Linked DNA regions of Homo sapiens. The protein of the gene in region 1 interacts with the protein of each later gene in a pairwise test. Each region holds a gene or a part of one and is shown on either strand. Other genes may lie near its edges.

Evidence for each region. Proteins that work in one complex are often made in the same cells at the same time.
Region 2: the proteins of LCP2 (region 1) and MAP4K3 interact in binary tests that used the Homo sapiens proteins (3 or more experiments, as listed by UniProt).

What each region holds. Positions count from the first base shown.
Region 1 is NC_000005.10:170,252,270-170,260,833, reverse strand, and holds part of LCP2 (lymphocyte cytosolic protein 2), read left to right. Parts: intron 1-1,955; coding exon 1,956-1,968; intron 1,969-2,667; coding exon 2,668-2,797; intron 2,798-4,258; coding exon 4,259-4,308; intron 4,309-7,620; coding exon 7,621-7,715; intron 7,716-8,263; exon of another isoform or gene 8,264-8,322; coding exon 8,323-8,400; exon of another isoform or gene 8,401-8,564. UniProt on the Homo sapiens protein: Adapter protein primarily involved in signaling pathways within T-cells, as well as other immune cells such as platelets, mast cells, and natural killer (NK) cells.
Region 2 is NC_000002.12:39,321,460-39,330,023, reverse strand, and holds part of MAP4K3 (mitogen-activated protein kinase kinase kinase kinase 3), read left to right. Parts: intron 1-3,746; coding exon 3,747-3,878; intron 3,879-4,062; coding exon 4,063-4,125; intron 4,126-4,212; coding exon 4,213-4,294; intron 4,295-4,395; coding exon 4,396-4,506; intron 4,507-8,564. UniProt on the Homo sapiens protein: Serine/threonine kinase that plays a role in the response to environmental stress. Appears to act upstream of the JUN N-terminal pathway.

The DNA of each region.
Region 1 (8,564 bases):
AGGGCACAAGGAGAAAAAGAGGATAAAGTAAGGGAAGGCCAGAAGTTTGGACCATGCCTAAATTTCCAAGGCTACTGTTTTCCTTTTCAATACTTCCACAACCTGAAAAAGAGGGGAAATAGCATTTCTTGAATGCTTACCATATGCACATTGCCATGCCAGTTAAATATGACCAGTTGTCCCTGTTTGCGAGGGATGCTGTCAGTTTTAGCACTGAAAAGTCCCCTGTCCCAAGAACTATCTCCATCCTAGGAAAACCAGGATAGTTGAGTATTTCTCGCTTTACATATGAGTATAATGAACCCATAAGGAAACATCTTTTCTCTTTTACGGAGAGGAAATTGAGGCTCAGAAGGAATAAGATACTCTTTGCAAATTGCATGCTTATAAAGAGCCAGGATCTGAACCCAGATCTGCTGAGTTTCTCTACACCATAAGCCCTCTGAAGGCCATCAGACCCCTGCTGTCATTCAAGGGCTCAGCCCAAAAGCGCCTGCTATTTTTGCAGCTCTGTGCTAGATGCTGTGCTTGTTCCGATGAAGTGCTGAGATCTTATGGAGGCAGGCACACTCACAACCCCTCATGCCAGACAGCATGCAATCACGGGATGCTCTGTGGGGCTGAGGGAAGAAAGTGTGCCATGTGGCTCAAGGAGCCAGCAGTGACTTCCTAGAGGAGGTGAGATTTATGCTGGTCATTCAATGATAGGGAGGACACAGAATAGAGTCATTCTTAAAGAAAGCCCATGGGGATTCCCCTCAGGAGTGTCCTGAGCAGGTGGATACCAGTGCCCACGGAGGCTGCAGGGACAGTGAGAACAGTGGCTTGGCTGCAGAGATAGGAACAAGGCAGAGGTAAGGCTGGACAGTGAGGATAACATCACATTCCAGGTTCCCTGTCTCTGGAAGGATTGACACTTGTGCTCATGAGAATCTGGGAGTTGTGTTTTCTGGAACCAGAGGGAATATACTTGCAAAAGTATTGAAAAGTGATTTTGTTGTGTGGGGTTTATGAGCCCATGTGTGTTTATTTATGCAGCTCTTTGCTGGGACTCCCAGTTGGCCAACTGGGATGAATGATTTTGACTGTGGCCTTTTTCGCCTTCTCTCAGTGTGTGATAGGATTGATGATGGCAAACTTTTATTAAAGAGCACTTAACATAAGCCAGACACAAGTAGTAGCTAATTTAATCCTTCTAACAACACTTTGAGAAAGATGCTGTTTCATCATTACAGATCTGGCCTAACCAAACAAGTTCAAGCTGGCCCTTTTGGTCTACTAGTTGGTGGCAACATCATTTTTTCTCTTTGAACCTCATTTCTTATCTGAGTGGAAGAGAAAATAGCCCCTCCCTTGTCTAATTTCCCAAGGTTGCTCTGAAGATAAAAATGGTGAGGGTTGTAGATGAACCTTGTAAGCCACCGTATAAATATGGTCTTATTGATCTTAAGAAGAGTGGCCATTGCAAAAGAGAGCCAAAAAGAAGACTGAGCTTTGGTCAGACATATTTGGGGTTGAATCCATCTCTGCAACTCCTGGCAAGCTAAGGAAGCTTCCTCAGCATCATGCTTTTGTAAAATGAGGATGTTAAATTTTTGGGGGGTCACTAGGGGAACTGAATGAAATCTTGTGTATGAATCTTTTGGACACATTGTAGATATTGTCAATATTATTACATCTTTGGGCCCTTTTAGGCACCTCAGAATCTATTTCATGCTGAGTATATGAGGAGAGTCTCATACTGGAATGCCCTTAGATGACTGTTTGTATTAAGAAATTGTAAAACACTTAGCAACTTCTATTATTCTCCACAGTATATTTATTATGAAGATGTATAACTGCCAGAGAAAGAAACAGATACCTATTTGATTTATTTGATTGAGAAATGCAGTTTTTATTTTAAGAATTGTATTTTGATGATAGCTTAATATCTTTTTTTTTCTTCCCCTTCCCAGGATGAAGATGATGGTATGTTCGGAAACACATTCTTACAGCCTATAACTCATTCTTTCATTTTCCTGCTCAGGCATTCAAGTGGAATTGTTTAGTACAGGAACCCCATAGAATCAATTATAAGTCTTAAATTAGTATTAAGTAGACTTATGTCAATTGGCATACTGCATAACTATCGTAAAATGGATTACTTGGTTAGATTACCGAAGAAGACTAAATTCATGTGTAACAGTGCAGATTATTTAATTGTATCACAAAATGTAAAATTGCATGCATGGTTTGATGGAAACATTTCTCACATTTATGTCTTCTAACACACGTGGGTAAAGAATCAGTAACTGCCAATGAATGAGATAGCATAAAATTTTGACTTTCATAAAACAAAACTTGTAAATCATTTCTGAAATTTATAAGGTTTCCAGCTGACAATTTTCTGCCAAGTTAACATTTCAAAAATGAAAAACAAAATCAATGTGTATTTTAGAGTATCATCTAGATCTGCGCCCCTTTGTAAATGGATTCTATGGTGGTTAAGTCATCTAGAAACACCCTGGGAGCAAGGTTCCATCCTACTACTTCCTAATTACATCTGATCTGCTTTATTTTTGTGTCCTCTTTATACTAGCTGTTTCTAACTGGGGGGCGGTTATGGAATGTTTCTTAGTGACAGCTGGGGCCTGCCAATCTCATTCATTGTTTTCTACTTCTGCACAGTGCATCAGAGACCTTTGCCCCAGCCAGCACTACTTCCTATGAGCTCCAACACTTTCCCTTCAAGATCTACTAAGCCAAGTCCCATGAACCCTCTCCCATCCTCTCACATGCCTGGAGCATTCTCAGAAAGGTTTGTAGCTCTGTCATGAAATTCTAGCTTAATATAATGTTTAGGTCCATCCAGTACTGAAGTAATGCCAGGCAGATTGAGAAAGAAGGAAATGACGGGTAGATAGTAGGGTCTGAACATTTTGGGTCTTAAGACATAAAACCAAACTGAGCATTAAGAACGATATGTTAATCCACCAGTGTCCTCTGAGTCTCTGCTTGAGGTGAGAGGGGTGAGGAATTGACTTCCTCCTTGATCCCTCCAGATAGAATGGGCCTTTTGGTAGAAAACAAAGAATATTTTCACTTTATGAGTTCAAACAAACAACAATAATTAAGAAACCCAGTTAGTCTAAGTACTTGAAGTTCATCTGCATCTTAGTTGGGGAGACTGAGAAAATGCGCCTCGTGCTTGGCTGATGCTAGGAATTCATTGCAGTCTCTGTCCCCCTGTTTTCTCAGTAGCAGCTGTGTTTCTCAGGGCTGGTATGAGGCCGCCCAGGGGCAGATGCATGAACAGGAGAAAGGCCCAGTCATTGTCCCCAAACAAGCCCACGGGCAGCCTGTGGTGTCCCCCAAGTCCTCCAGCCCTGTAGGCTTACCTTCTCCCTTAATATTCAAGGAGAGAAGCCAAGATCCTTCCCTAATATTGTAGAAAACTCAACCACCCACAAGACTCATCTACCCCCACCAACTCCTAGCAGGATTCTCACAATGTTTCCTCTGCCCTGGGACCCTCTGGCCCTGAGTTTCTGCTGCTCTTCTCCCTCTTCCCGCTGGCATCTGCTGCCCTTGTCTGCTGACCCTCCTGCTGCTTTCCTCCATGCTAGCCCCAACCCCATCCTTCATTTGCACAAAATCCCACTCACACAAGGTTGCTGTGCAGAGCAGACTTTTCCCAAAGGTTTAGACTGATGGGTGCAGGAGTTGCTGCTCAGTGTGGAGGGAACAGACTGCATTTCAGGGCCCTCTGGGCCCGCCTCCCCACCCCAGCCCTGCAAATGCTATCACCGTCTGCTGCAGAGCCCACCTAACATGCACTTCCCTTCTCACCTGGCTTACTCTCTCCTTGCAGACCCTAAGCCCTGGGGATTCACTGCTCACCAAAGACAAGCCCATTAATATAATTTCCTAGCAAAAGGGAAGTCTTCTGAGAAGAGGACTTCTGTATTCTCCCAACTCAAAGAGCTCAAGTTGCAGCCAATTTTTAAAGTAACTGTTAAGTGCCCTTTACACAGTTGAATGTTGTTGCTGTTCTGCTTTATAAAGCTTGTTAGACTTTGGCATGGTCCACAGCGGAATGTAGTTCCATTCCCTGTGTGCTGTGTTCTGTCCCTGTGCCCAGCCCCCATGGTTTTGGGGGCAGCAGGGAAAGTGATACCAAATCAAGAAGCATTTGCAGCCTGGCTTCCCTAACCCAGCTCCCCTGTCTGGCCCCATCACCCCAATCCAAATAAATTTTGTTCTTTTTCTGTCTCCTCAGTAACAGCAGTTTTCCACAGAGTGCCTCCCTGCCACCATACTTCTCTCAAGGTTTGTACTCTGGGCTTTTGTGACGTGCTTCAGCCATCAAGCCTTTATGACTGGATCCCTAACCTGTCCCAAAAGCTTTCGACAAAGGTTTTATTGTTTCCTAAAAGCATCTGATTTCCTCATTCAACATTTAATTCCGTGTCTGCAGTGTGCCAAGGGCTGTCGGAATGATAGGATAGTACCTAAAACACAACACATACACACACACGTATACATATACATGCCCATACACACATGCACATATACATGCACACACACACATGCATACACATGTACACATATATACATGTGCACACAGGTATACACATATATACACATACACAATACATGCACACACATGCACATGCATACACACATACATACATGGACACACCTACACACACTTCACCAGGAAGCCAGCCCTCATCCCCAATCTTCCTGTGCAGAACTATTCCTCCAGCTCCGGTTTCCCTACGGAATCCTCAGAATCCTGTTTGCCTTTCTCTGCAGTTTTAGATTTCCATGATCAATCTGTCCATGGTTGTGAGTTGGGGAGCATGTTCAAAATACAAACTAAGAGAACTTAACGTCACAGATTCTGATTCAGTAAGTCCGGAGTGAAGTCAGGGACCTGTGTTTTTAATAATACCACCTCTGGACGTCCATGATTAGTATTCGCTTAGAGTGTTCTGCAACTTGAAAGTGCATATAGATCACCTGGGAATTGTGTTAACATGCAGATTCTAATTCAGGAGGTCTGGGGTGAGGCCTGAGTTTCTGAATTTCTAACATATTCCATGCGATGCTGTGACTGCTGGTTCATGAACCACTTTGAAAGGCACTGGGGCAGGACTAATTTGTGCTTTTTATCCTTAAAGACTTGCAAGTGACAGGCACTTGGTAGGCACTTTAAAAATGCTTGTCGAATGAGCATCAAATGACTAGGGAAAGTTACCCAACTCTAGTAAGTAGCATTCCAGGAAACTGGCTTAGCATTGCCAGATTTTCCAATTTTTTTCTCAAGAAAAGTGAAATTATTTAATTTTTAAATGTTGACTTAAATTTTTAAAAAATGCTGTGAAGAATGACAACAGAAAAGCCACTTTTTTTGCAGTCATGTTCCACATGCAGTGTGTGCACGGGCCAGTGTGTGTTCAGTAGAAAACTATGTTAGTAAATGTGAGTTGATAGCCTGAGAATCAACATTTTTTCCAAGAACACATCTAGGGTATTCAGTTGGATGCATCATTCCATAGAGGGGCGAGATCCCACTGCTGACGCCAGTGGCACCCACTAAGTTTTCAATGTTTTCTAAGCATTTGAGGTTATGGTGGTGTCCACGTTCACCACATGGTTTTCACAGTTTCTCGCCCAACCCCTAATTTTCCACAATCCCCAAAATTCTCTGTGTTTTGCAAACACACATTTGTGTTACCTCCTTGCCTCTGTAGCCATCTGAGTCCCAGACACATCACAGCATTATTTTCCAAAGCAAGTTCCACAGATCTCCAGTTTTATGAGTCTGTGATGGGGCTTATTAATGCAAATAGTTAATTATTTTTGGAACATTAGCTTGATCCAAATTGATCTCTTTTCCCCTAAGACTGCCAGGACACCTGGTCCTCGGTCTTCTCTACTGGTTCTACTGGTTGTTCCAACATCAGAAGGATAAAGTTTGTGCTGTGCATTGCCCAAAAACCTGTCATGACTCCCTTGAGAGTCTAGATATTAAGGGTGGTAGGTGACTGCAATAAAAAAGTGTATGTGCTTCTCTGTTGTAACTTAGAACTCTATGATGCTGGCCTGCAGGTGCAGAGGCAGAAAGAGAATCATTTCTTAACTGTAGAATGGCCATGCAATGCGGGCCTTGGTTCTGTTACTCTCCTGTATTGTTAGGTTTCATTCATTCAACAAGCATTATAAAAGTGCAAGTGTTGGACTGCAAAAAAAATGGGGATGGGGAAGATCTGTCTAGGCACTGGGAACTTGGAGAAGGAAGGCACTGGCAGCTCAGGGCCAGCTTGTTTAGAAACAGGGAAGGAGCATCTTAAACAATCCTGTTGATGTGGCTCAGGAGACTTGTTTAAAAACAGGGAAGGACCATCATAAATAATCTTGATGATGCGGCTCAGGAGGCTTTAGCCCTTACAGGTGACTCTCCTCTCCTCAGTGGTGTAACAAGGTAGACGTAGTGACAATCCGTGGTGTAGAACCACCGGAAGTACTTGCTAACATGCAGATTTCTGAGCCCCAGGTGCTCGCAAGTCGCCCAGGGATTCTGACTCATGCACAGTAGCATTTGGTAACCACAGGTTTAAGTTTTGGCTTTGCCACTGATAGCGCATGATTTGCTTAGCCTCTGAGCCTGTATTTCCCCATATGCAAAATGAAGACAATACCTACCTTGTAATGTTGCTGTGAGGATTAAAAAAAATGTACACACGATACCTTACTCAAGATCTGGACAGAGTTGTGCTGAATAAATATTTGTTGAAGGTATGAATGAATGATGGTTAAATAATTAAGAGAACATTTGACTCACAGAATTTTTCTGTTTTTAACCACAGCCTGGCACATAGAAAATACCCTGGGCAACTGCAATAAACACAACTAAACCTTTCCTGAGATTAGGAAACATTCTCCTAAAGTTTCAAGGAACTGTAAATGAGAAAAAAGAGTTTTAGAGAAGATGAGGCACAAGCACTGGGTAATTAATAGTTGCCCAGTAAAAACTTCCTGATCTGTAGTGCCTTCTATGTGAGTTGAACAGTCTACCTGTTTAGTTAGAACAGCGGGTAGCCAACTTTGATTCTAAAAGCTAGCAATATTCTCAAGGTAATTTTGTCTTCTCTTGGGTCACTTACATTTCTTTTTGTGGAAACATTAAGAACATAATTATCTTCATCATTGCATTGTCCCTACATCAGCTGTTGGGAATCCATTCTGCCTATGATGATATTATAAGAATCTATGAAAAATTTGTCTCTTGAGCATTCATTTTGACGTTCACATTCATTAAAACAATTGCGAATTTTTTTATAAAGGGATCTAGTCACTTTATATTATGTAACATGCACATTTAGAAAAATCACTCAAAGTTGAGGTTCTCTTCTCAAAGTTTTACTGGCATGATTACAGAATAATGCCTGAGCAGCCCCCATGGTTTCAAACAGATGAAAATTATTTTTGAAGCCCTTGTTTCTTAAAATGCGAACTATAGGACCAATCGCAAGGGTATTTTTTTGGGGGAGTGGGGGGAATGTGTTTTGTGTTTTGATAGCAGCAAACAATAGCTTACAGTAAATTAACTGTCAGAATTCTATACTTTTGAAGGCCCTAGCAACAGACCACCTATCAGAGCCGAAGGCAGAAACTTCCCCTTGCCACTTCCAAACAAACCTCGGCCCCCATCCCCCGCGGAGGAAGAGGTAAGAGAGCATGTTTTTATTTTTGTTTGTTTGCCTTTTCCCTGGTAAAAGAATCACCAGAAACTCCCATTGAATGTTCTTCTGTACTTTTATCTTCCCTTTGTTTTATTTTATTTATTTGAAAAAAAAGTTAAAGGAGAAGATCCAGATGAACAATATGTTCTTTTCCCTTGGCGTTCTTTCAGACGCTTTCAATGGCAAACATGTGTTTTGCATTAAACAGCAAGAAAAATAATCCTGTTTTTTATGTTTATGACCTTGATTCGTCACTTAACTGCTCAATAACCCATTTTTTTAATCAAGCAGGTTATTATGCTAAACTGAAGAAATTATTGTATCTGTATCTTTCCTGAAGAGGTTCCATACTGTAAGGAACTCTTATTCACAGGCATTTTTGCAACCAGTGTCATGATAAAAAGCAGTTCGCACAAAATATCTTCTATTTAGCCCCAGCTAAATGACTCTGAATGCAAATTAAGAAAACAAATGTTTCAGACCTCCTGGAATTGAGGTGTTGATTTATGGAAATGATTACTCAGAGGCTTTTCTTTTCACTTACATCTGTAACTGTAAAATTTATTCAGTTTCTAAAAATTTACATTTTCAGAATTCATTAAATGAAGAGTGGTACGTTTCTTATATTACCCGACCAGAGGCAGAAGCTGCTCTTAGAAAGATAAACCAGGTATTGTGCTATAGTTTATTTTAACATAGTTGTAAATATTAATGGCAGAGAAGGGAACTGACCTGTCCTGAGTACCAATTACAGGCTAGGAATTCTGCTAGGTGCTGTTGCTTTCTGTAATACCTAGGAGACCCATTAGTGCCAGCTTCACAACTACCAGCACC
Region 2 (8,564 bases), on another chromosome or scaffold:
TAATTTTCTTATATTTTCTCTAAGAACAAAAAAATCTTTTTTGTTCTACTTATAAGAGTTCCTCAACTCTCTACATTCATATTTTCATGATGGAGCCTTCCCTCAAATGTCCACTAATCCTTACATTTTGGTTCACTTTGAAGAGCATGGCACTAAAAACTGGTTCATAACTCTTTTTGTTTGGGAAGTCGGGTGTAAACCTGGTTGTTATGTTCTAGAACTGGTCAAGTGAAGGAAGCAGAGATGTTCATTGTTCTATATACGTACTTCTACTTAATCATGTCCTCTCCCTTTAACCTCTTCACTCCTTGGTTCCTGGTGTCTCTTGAGTCTGCAGTCTCTCTTCTTCGTCTTGGTCCTTATCCAGTGGGAATTGGGGGGCAATAGTTGCTGGGGCTTAATGGATAAGAGTAGGAATGCCAGGGACTGACTGTTGACACTTTCTAATACTCCTGTTTCCAGCCCAACCTCAACCCTACTATTGCTACTTTTTAAACCTAGCTTGTCAACATTTCCAGGGTATTTGAGGCTCATTGGCTGCTAGTTGTTGTTCTTTTCCTTGGCACCTGCTTAGGTTTGCCCTGCCTCCTGTTTGCTACATCATTTACTATTCTTCTGTTTTTAGTCTGTGTGTTATGGTTTTAGTTAAAATATGTCTGCTGGACTTTTCAAAGATGGTATGTGTATATATTTCTCTTTGTTCTTCTCTTTATTGTTTTGGGTTGAGCAGAGTGAGGGCTTGAATTGCTGTCATTTTTAAGTACACTGTCTTCTCAGTTTTATTGTAAACATCTCATTAAATCTTCAGGATCTGACTTGATTCTATACAATATTCATTCACTGAATGTTAATGATGAAATTTCCAACTCCAGTTTCACAGGTTAAAAATTTATGTCATTACTCTTGGAATAATGTGGGAAATATCTTGGGAACATGTGAAATTGTGAATTAGGTAAAGTTAATTTTGGGAACACTCTCCCTGTATCTGTCTTTCTGGTATTATATCTTTCCTACCTAAAATCTAAAACTTTAGAACCTCTCTCTTCCCAAGTGATTAGATCGGCAGTTATTCAGTTGTTCGAAAAAGTCTGCTTGAAATGACAGTTCTCAAAATTAAACACATATGTACCTTAAACATTTTATTTCAATTTAAGACATATATGTACATTTATTCAACAGTCTTTTGATATAGAATCAAGGCCTTTTCTTAGAGTAGATCACTTACTAGAGTTCCATTTTAGTAATGCAAACCACACACACCCCAATGCATCAACTACATTTCTTAGTCAGGTTTATTGAGGCATAAATTTACCCTTATTAGGTGTACAGTTGTGCAAATTCATACAGTTGTATGAATGTTGAAAAACTTGTATGCTGTGGTGGTAAGAAACCACCAGAACACATTGACACTATCCAAAAAATCTTTTATTTTGCCCCTTTTTAGTAAATGCTCTACCTCCATCCGTAGCATCTGGTAACCCCTGATCTGATTTCTGTCTCTATATTTGTGCCTTTTTCTTGAGTGGCATAGAAATGGAATCATATAATCTGTAGCCTTCCCAGTTTTCTGCCATTGTCATGTTCTTATCTAACGTACCAGGTTTTTTGGCTCATCTTTAGAAATTTGCCTTTCTAAAAGCGAAGTCTTTCTAAAGCATTCACTAATTTTTGTTTGTTTTTGTTTTTGGTTTTTGAGATGGGGTCTCACTCTGTCACCCAGGCTGAAGTGCAGTCGTGTGATCTCAGCTCACTGCAACCTCTACTTCCCAGGCTCAAGCGATCGTCCCACCTCAGCCTCCCAAGTAACTAGAACCACAGGCATGCGCCACCATGCCCAGCTAATTTTTGCATTTTTGGTAGAGACGGGGTTTTGCCATGTTGCCCAGGCTGGTCTCAAACTCCTGAGCTCAAACCATCCACCTGCCTCGGCCTCCCAAAGTGCTAGGATTACAGGCGTGAGCCACTGCTCCCGGCCAGCATTCGCTAACTTTTAAACCTTCATTATAACTATGTGTTTACAATAGCAAATGTAACTGGAATAAACAGTTTCAGAGATGAACCCAGTTGACTGTGATAAGCACACAACTTAGCTGGCTGGAGTAGACATGTACTAAGTGTAATGTTTCCCTTGTATTTACATAGAAGAAGGGAGAGCATCAGCTAATGTGGTGAACTAGTAAGGGGAGGCAAGTTAGGAGCGTATCACTTGCATGCATTTCCCACTCCACTAGGGCATTTCTACCAGCTACTTGGAATCTAGTCATCATAAAAGTAATAACTGACACTTTGAAATTCGCTTTTCTTATAGTAATTTAAATTTTCATAAGATCTGTTTCAGATTTAAAAGATTTTAAGACCAGGGGTTTTGAAAGTTAGAGGGTTTTTTGTTTTTGACTTTACTGACTTACTTGACCTTCCTGAAATCATACCAGGAAGATAAATGTGTATTTGTAAGATTATCTAGACTGCTCTTTAGTATGGAAGAGTTGAGATGTTTATTTCAATTAGTTGCTTTTAAAAATATTGTTTAGGATTTGAAAATTTTTGTATTTGATAATTAATAGTTTAAATCAGTCAAATTCAAATTTATGGAAGTATAATTAGAATAAGACTGTAGCAAAGTAAAGAGAAACAAAAAAATTACTGAATTTGGGTAACTTTCCTCTGAATAAATACATTTTTTAAAAGTAGACACTTGTTTTTATAACTTTTCCATTATTATAATAGAACTAGAAAAAATGCCAAATAAGTTTTTAGTAAATATGAATTAAATACTAAATATGAAGATTATTGGTGCCCGACGGAATAGTTTTGGTGAAGTAAAAACAGGGATTGCCTGGTCGCAGTTTTTTGATAACAGGAAGTAGAGCTATAGGTTGCTTATTACGAATATTATTTATTGAATTTTGCATGTACAGAGAGATTGGGAGCATGAATGATTTTGGACGTGTTGGTCTATTAGAATTGTATATTTTTATAAACCTTTTTAGTAACTAGTATAAGGAAGTAACAATGGAATCAGCAATAGGGGACTGAAGTGCAGAGTCTTTTTTAAAATTTATAAACAAAGGTTTGATTGACTCACAGTATTGTATTGCATGGCTGGGGAGGCCTCAGAAAACTTACAATCATGGAGTAAGGCAAAAAAGCGGGCACCTTCTTCACAAGGTGGCAGGAGAGAGCACTCGGGAAACGGCCACTTTTAAAACCATCAGACCTTGTGAGAACCTGCTCACTATCATGAGAAAAGCATAGGGGAAACTGACCCAATGATCCAATCACCTCCTACGAGGCCCCTCCCTCAACACATGGGGATTACAGTTCGAGATGAGATTTGGGTGGGGACACAGAGCCAAACCATATCATTCTGCCCCTGCCCACCCCCCAAATTGCAGGTCCTTTTTACATTTCAAAACCAGTCATGCCTTCCCAACAGTCCCCCAAAGTCTTAACTCATTCCAGCATTAACCCAGAAGTCCAAATCCAAAGTCTCGTCTGAGGCAAGGCAAGGCAAGTCCCTTCCACCTATAAGCCTGTATAATCAAAAGCAAGTTACTAATGAGGGTCTTATGAGATGTCAAGATCTTGGAAAAGGTGGACCTTTTAAGTACTGCATATTTATTTTTCAAAAACCAAGGCCTAAAGAGGCCTTAATTTAGATAGTGATAATTCCTTGTGCCTCTGGGTGGGAGTATAAAGGAAAACATATAACAGAAGTTTTTTATTTTCTGGAATATTTATTTCAGGATGGCTCCAGAAGTTGCAGCTGTTGAGAGGAAGGGGGGTTACAATCAACTCTGTGATCTCTGGGCAGTGGGAATCACTGCCATAGAACTTGCAGAGCTTCAGCCTCCTATGTTTGACTTACACCCAATGAGGTCAGTGCATCATCATTGAAGAATCTTACGCTTAAGGTTTTTATCCTCTTAGTATGCTGTCATGAACAAGTAATTTTCTTAGTCTTGTTTTACCTTATTTGGGGAACAAATAGTAATAGAATTTGTGTAATAGATAAAAATGTGAAATATTAAAATGCTGTGTAATGATTTGTTGATTTTTCAGAGCATTATTTCTAATGACAAAAAGCAATTTTCAGCCTCCTAAACTAAAGGATAAAATGAAATGGTAAGTATTTTTATGTTATTTACTTTTATGGTGAGATGAGCAAAAAATGAATTGGAATGTAAAAGTCTAATTTTCTAAATTTCTTAGGTCAAATAGTTTTCATCACTTTGTGAAAATGGCACTTACCAAAAATCCGAAAAAAAGACCTACTGCTGAAAAATTATTACAGGTATTATTTTTGCCCTGAAATATATATATATATTTCAAAAGATAAAATGTTATTCAATCAGATTTATAGTAAGTGTTCTGCATTGTATTTAATTTTTATAGCATCCTTTTGTAACACAACATTTGACACGGTCTTTGGCAATCGAGCTGTTGGATAAAGTAAATAATCCAGATCATTCCACTTACCATGATTTCGATGATGATGATCCTGAGGTAGGAATTGCTTTTACCAGCGGGCATATATAACATGTATATGTGTATGTATATATGTGTGTCTGTATGTACGTCTCAAAATCCATTTTTTTAATTTTGGGGCCTAGTTTAAATAAAAAAGCTCTTGAGGGAACAATTAATTCTTTGTCTTTGCCTTTCATGGAAAGTCAAATGCTAGGTTTTTCTTACTGACTACTTATAGGTGACTATAGTGTGAAAATGGCAAAGGCATATCATTTAATCCACTTGTTGAAATCACTGTAGTTATTTCAAAATAGCCATTTTTGGTGAAGTTGCCAAATAATCATTCACTGTAAAAGGGAAAGCAAATGGGAAGTGCCTAAACAAGACATTTGAATATTCAAAATTTCCCCTCAGTTTGCTTCTCAAAAAGAATCCTCAGTTTGGCCTGGTGGCTCATGTCTGTAATCCCATCACTTTGGGAGGCTGAAGCAAGAGGATTACTTGAGGCCAGGAGTTTGAAACCTGCCTGGTCAACATAGCAAGACCCCGTTTCTATCTTTAAAAAAAAATTCTTATATAATACTTCATAAATTATTAGAGGTTAGTAGGAAGTATAGGCTTGACTTTGCCAGTGACTAAAACTCAGCTATTCACTATGGAAATGTTTTAAAATGAGCCAGTATAGTTGTTAATAAAATAATTCTAATATGACAGAAGCATTGATATTAATGGAAGCTTCACTTCTGTTTGCATATGTAACATTCCTAGCACTGCTAATAGTTGTGGCAACCAAGATAAATTCAGTATATGTGACATGGCAGAATTCTGTTATTGGGTCTGTAACAGAAGTGGATAGGCTTTAACTCTACTGGCTTTATGGGAGGCCCTTAAAAATATTGTAAATTTCATTAATGACTGAAGGTGAAGTGTTTAGAAAGACGGCCACAGATTGTCTTAAGTCAGAGAGAACCTTTCTATCAATTCAGCATTGTCCCAGCTTGCCATCTTATGATAGATAAGCTATTTGTCCTTTTGTTTAAGGGTCTGGAAAAGAGTTTGGAGCTTAAAAATGTAAGGAATGTAAAGTATAATTAATCTTATAATTATACTCTGAAGAAGTTTTTTTTGTTTTGTTTTTGTTTTTTTTTGAGATGAGTCTTACTCTATTACCCAGGCTGGAGTGCAATGGCATGCTCTCAGCTCACTGCAGCCTCTGCCTCCTGGGTTCAAACGATTCTCCTGCCTCAGCCTCCTGAGTAGCTGGGATTACAGGAGCCCACCACCATGCCCAGCTAATTTTTGTATTTTTAGTAGAGATGGGGTTTTACCACATTGGCCAGGTTGGTCTCGAACTCCTGACCTTGTGATCTGCCTGCCTCGGCCTCCCAAATGCTGGGATTACAGGCATGAGCCACCGCACCTGGCCTGAAGAAGTTTTTTGGTGTTGATTTGCTTAATTTTATTTTTAAGAAAGTTAAGTTTTACAAACTCTTCTAGTCTTATTTAGTATACAGGCAGTCCTTGATGTGCATGGTAGTATGGGACTGTAAAAATGACTGCATAAGCTAAAATTCTGCAAAGTAATCTTAATAATCAGGAAAAATTATAATTGTTTCATGACTTTTAAAATTTTTTGTTAAAGCATAAACTCTGTTACTGTCAGTTGTAATTGTAGAAATGTGAAAAAATAGTAAAACTATTATTTACAGTGTATTATAAATATTAGAATCATCGAGAGTTAATGTGTTTCATTTCTTTGTTAATGAACTTTTCATGCACTTTTTTTACTTATCTAGTAGTCTGCTTATTGAGTAGTTTGCCTTTTCATCATGTGTCTGTGACACAGAGCAAGTATCTTTTCTATGCCTTGGCAAATTGTCATATTGCTTTCTAATTTTCTTTCTAATCATGATCATGATGTGCATCTGTTATTTACGTAGTAATTTGTGAACTGAAAGGCTACCAATAAAGTTTATACTTTATGCAATTTCAATTAATATACAGTGGTAACTGTTATTTGAACCATGATGTAGGGAACTAGTGTTATTTAACTAAATTATGGTAACTGAAATTGGTGCATAACAAAGCTGTAAAACAAGGACTGCCTATATCCTTTTCAGTGCACTAAATGCTACATGATTGTTTCTTACCTCACCCTATGTACTTGTCATGTCTTTTTAAAAATGTACTCAAAGAACAGAAATAATAAACCAAATAGAGAAGCAATCTGTGGAATGAAGATTCTTCTAAAACTTTCTCATATAGCAGGGAAAGAAACTCATCTTTCTTATCCAGACATTGTTTTGGTATTATAATTATAAATTGTTACAAATCTCTATGGTAAGTAGGTAAAATAAAGGAATTTAATTATTCCAGGGGTAGGATGAGGGGAAGCTGTTACATTCCCTCTCACAGTAGCTTAGAATAATGTTTTTCTTAAGAGAAATTCATAACTTTTTTATTTGCAAATGATTTGTAATTGTAATTGCTAAGTGCAGTGTTGTCACTCAAAATACGAATGTATCTAAGAATTTCAGCACTTACTGTGATACTAGAACTATTGTATGCATACTCTTAAAAATAAGGGTGGGCTCAGTGGCTTATGCCTGTAATCCCAGCACTCTGGAAGACCGAGGCAGGTGGATCACCTGAGGTCAGGAGTTTGGGACCAGCTTGGCTAACATGGTGAAACCCCGTCTCTACTAAAAATACAAAAATTAGCCGGGCATGGTGGCTCATGCGTGTAATCCCAGCTATTCAGGGGGCTGTGGCAAGAGAATTGCTTGAACCTGGGAGGCAGAGGTTATAGTGAGCCAAGATCATGCGACTGCACTCCAGCCTGGGCAACAGAGCGAGACTCCATCTCAAAAAAAAAAAACAAAAAATAGAAAAAGAAAAATATATATATATGTGTATTTATCTATATATACATATATACACACACACACACACACACACACATATACCACATCTAAGTCTAGTTTAAGTTTTTTATAGGTTATGCACTGTGGAAGAAAGTTTGACTTTTTAATGTTGAGTTCCCCTGTAGTTTCTATTTTAGAAGTAATTACACACTGGTGTAATTCTAATTCTGATTTTTATTCAGTTTTCGTCTCCTATATGTAAGCCCACTTACTATGTACAGCATTATAAGATTTAACAATTTTATTAATCTGTTATGCTAATAAATTAATAATTTATTGTGCTGTTTAAGCCGGGAAGGTAAAACTGTTCTCAGAAATAATCATGAGTTTCATCCATGTTCATTAATAACAGTCTGTATGAGTAACCTGCATGTTACCTGTTTTTGTTTGGTTTTGCTACTGTATATTAGATCAAAAGTCTAGGGTTTTTCCTAGCTCTATGGCTAGCTAGCTGAATGCCCTGCCACTTAATTTTAAGTCTCAGTATCCTCATCTATGAAATTGAAGGGGTGGGTTGCCCCTCCACACCTGTGGGTGTTTCTCGTTAGGTGGAAGGAGAGACTTGGAAAAGAAAGACACAGAGACAAAGTATAGAGAAAGAAATAAGGGGACCCAGGGGACCAGCGTTCAACATATGGAGGATCCCGCCAGCCTCTGAGTTCCCTTAGTATTTATTGATCATTTGTGGGTGTTTCCCCGAGAGGGGGATGTGTCAGGGTCACAAGACAATAGTGGGGAGAGGGTCAGCAGACAAACACGTGAACAGTGGTCTTTGCATCATAGACAAGGTAAAAGAATCAAGTGCTGTGCTTTTAGATATGCATACACATAAACATCTCAATGCTTTACAAACCAGTATTGTTGCCCGCATGTCCCACCTCCAGCCCTAAGGCGGTTTTTCCCTATCTCAGTAGATGGAATGTACAATCGGGTTTTATACTGAGACATTCCATTGCCCAGGGACGGGCAGGAGACAGATGCCTTCCTCTTGTCTCAACTGCAAGAGGCATGCCTTCCTCTTATACTAATCCTCCTCATTACAGACCCTTTATGGGTGTCGGGCTGGGGGACGGTCAGGTCTTCCCCTTCCCACGAGGCCATATTTCAGACTATCACATGGGGAGAAACCTTGGACAATACCTGGCTTTCCTAGGCGGAGGTCCCTGCGGC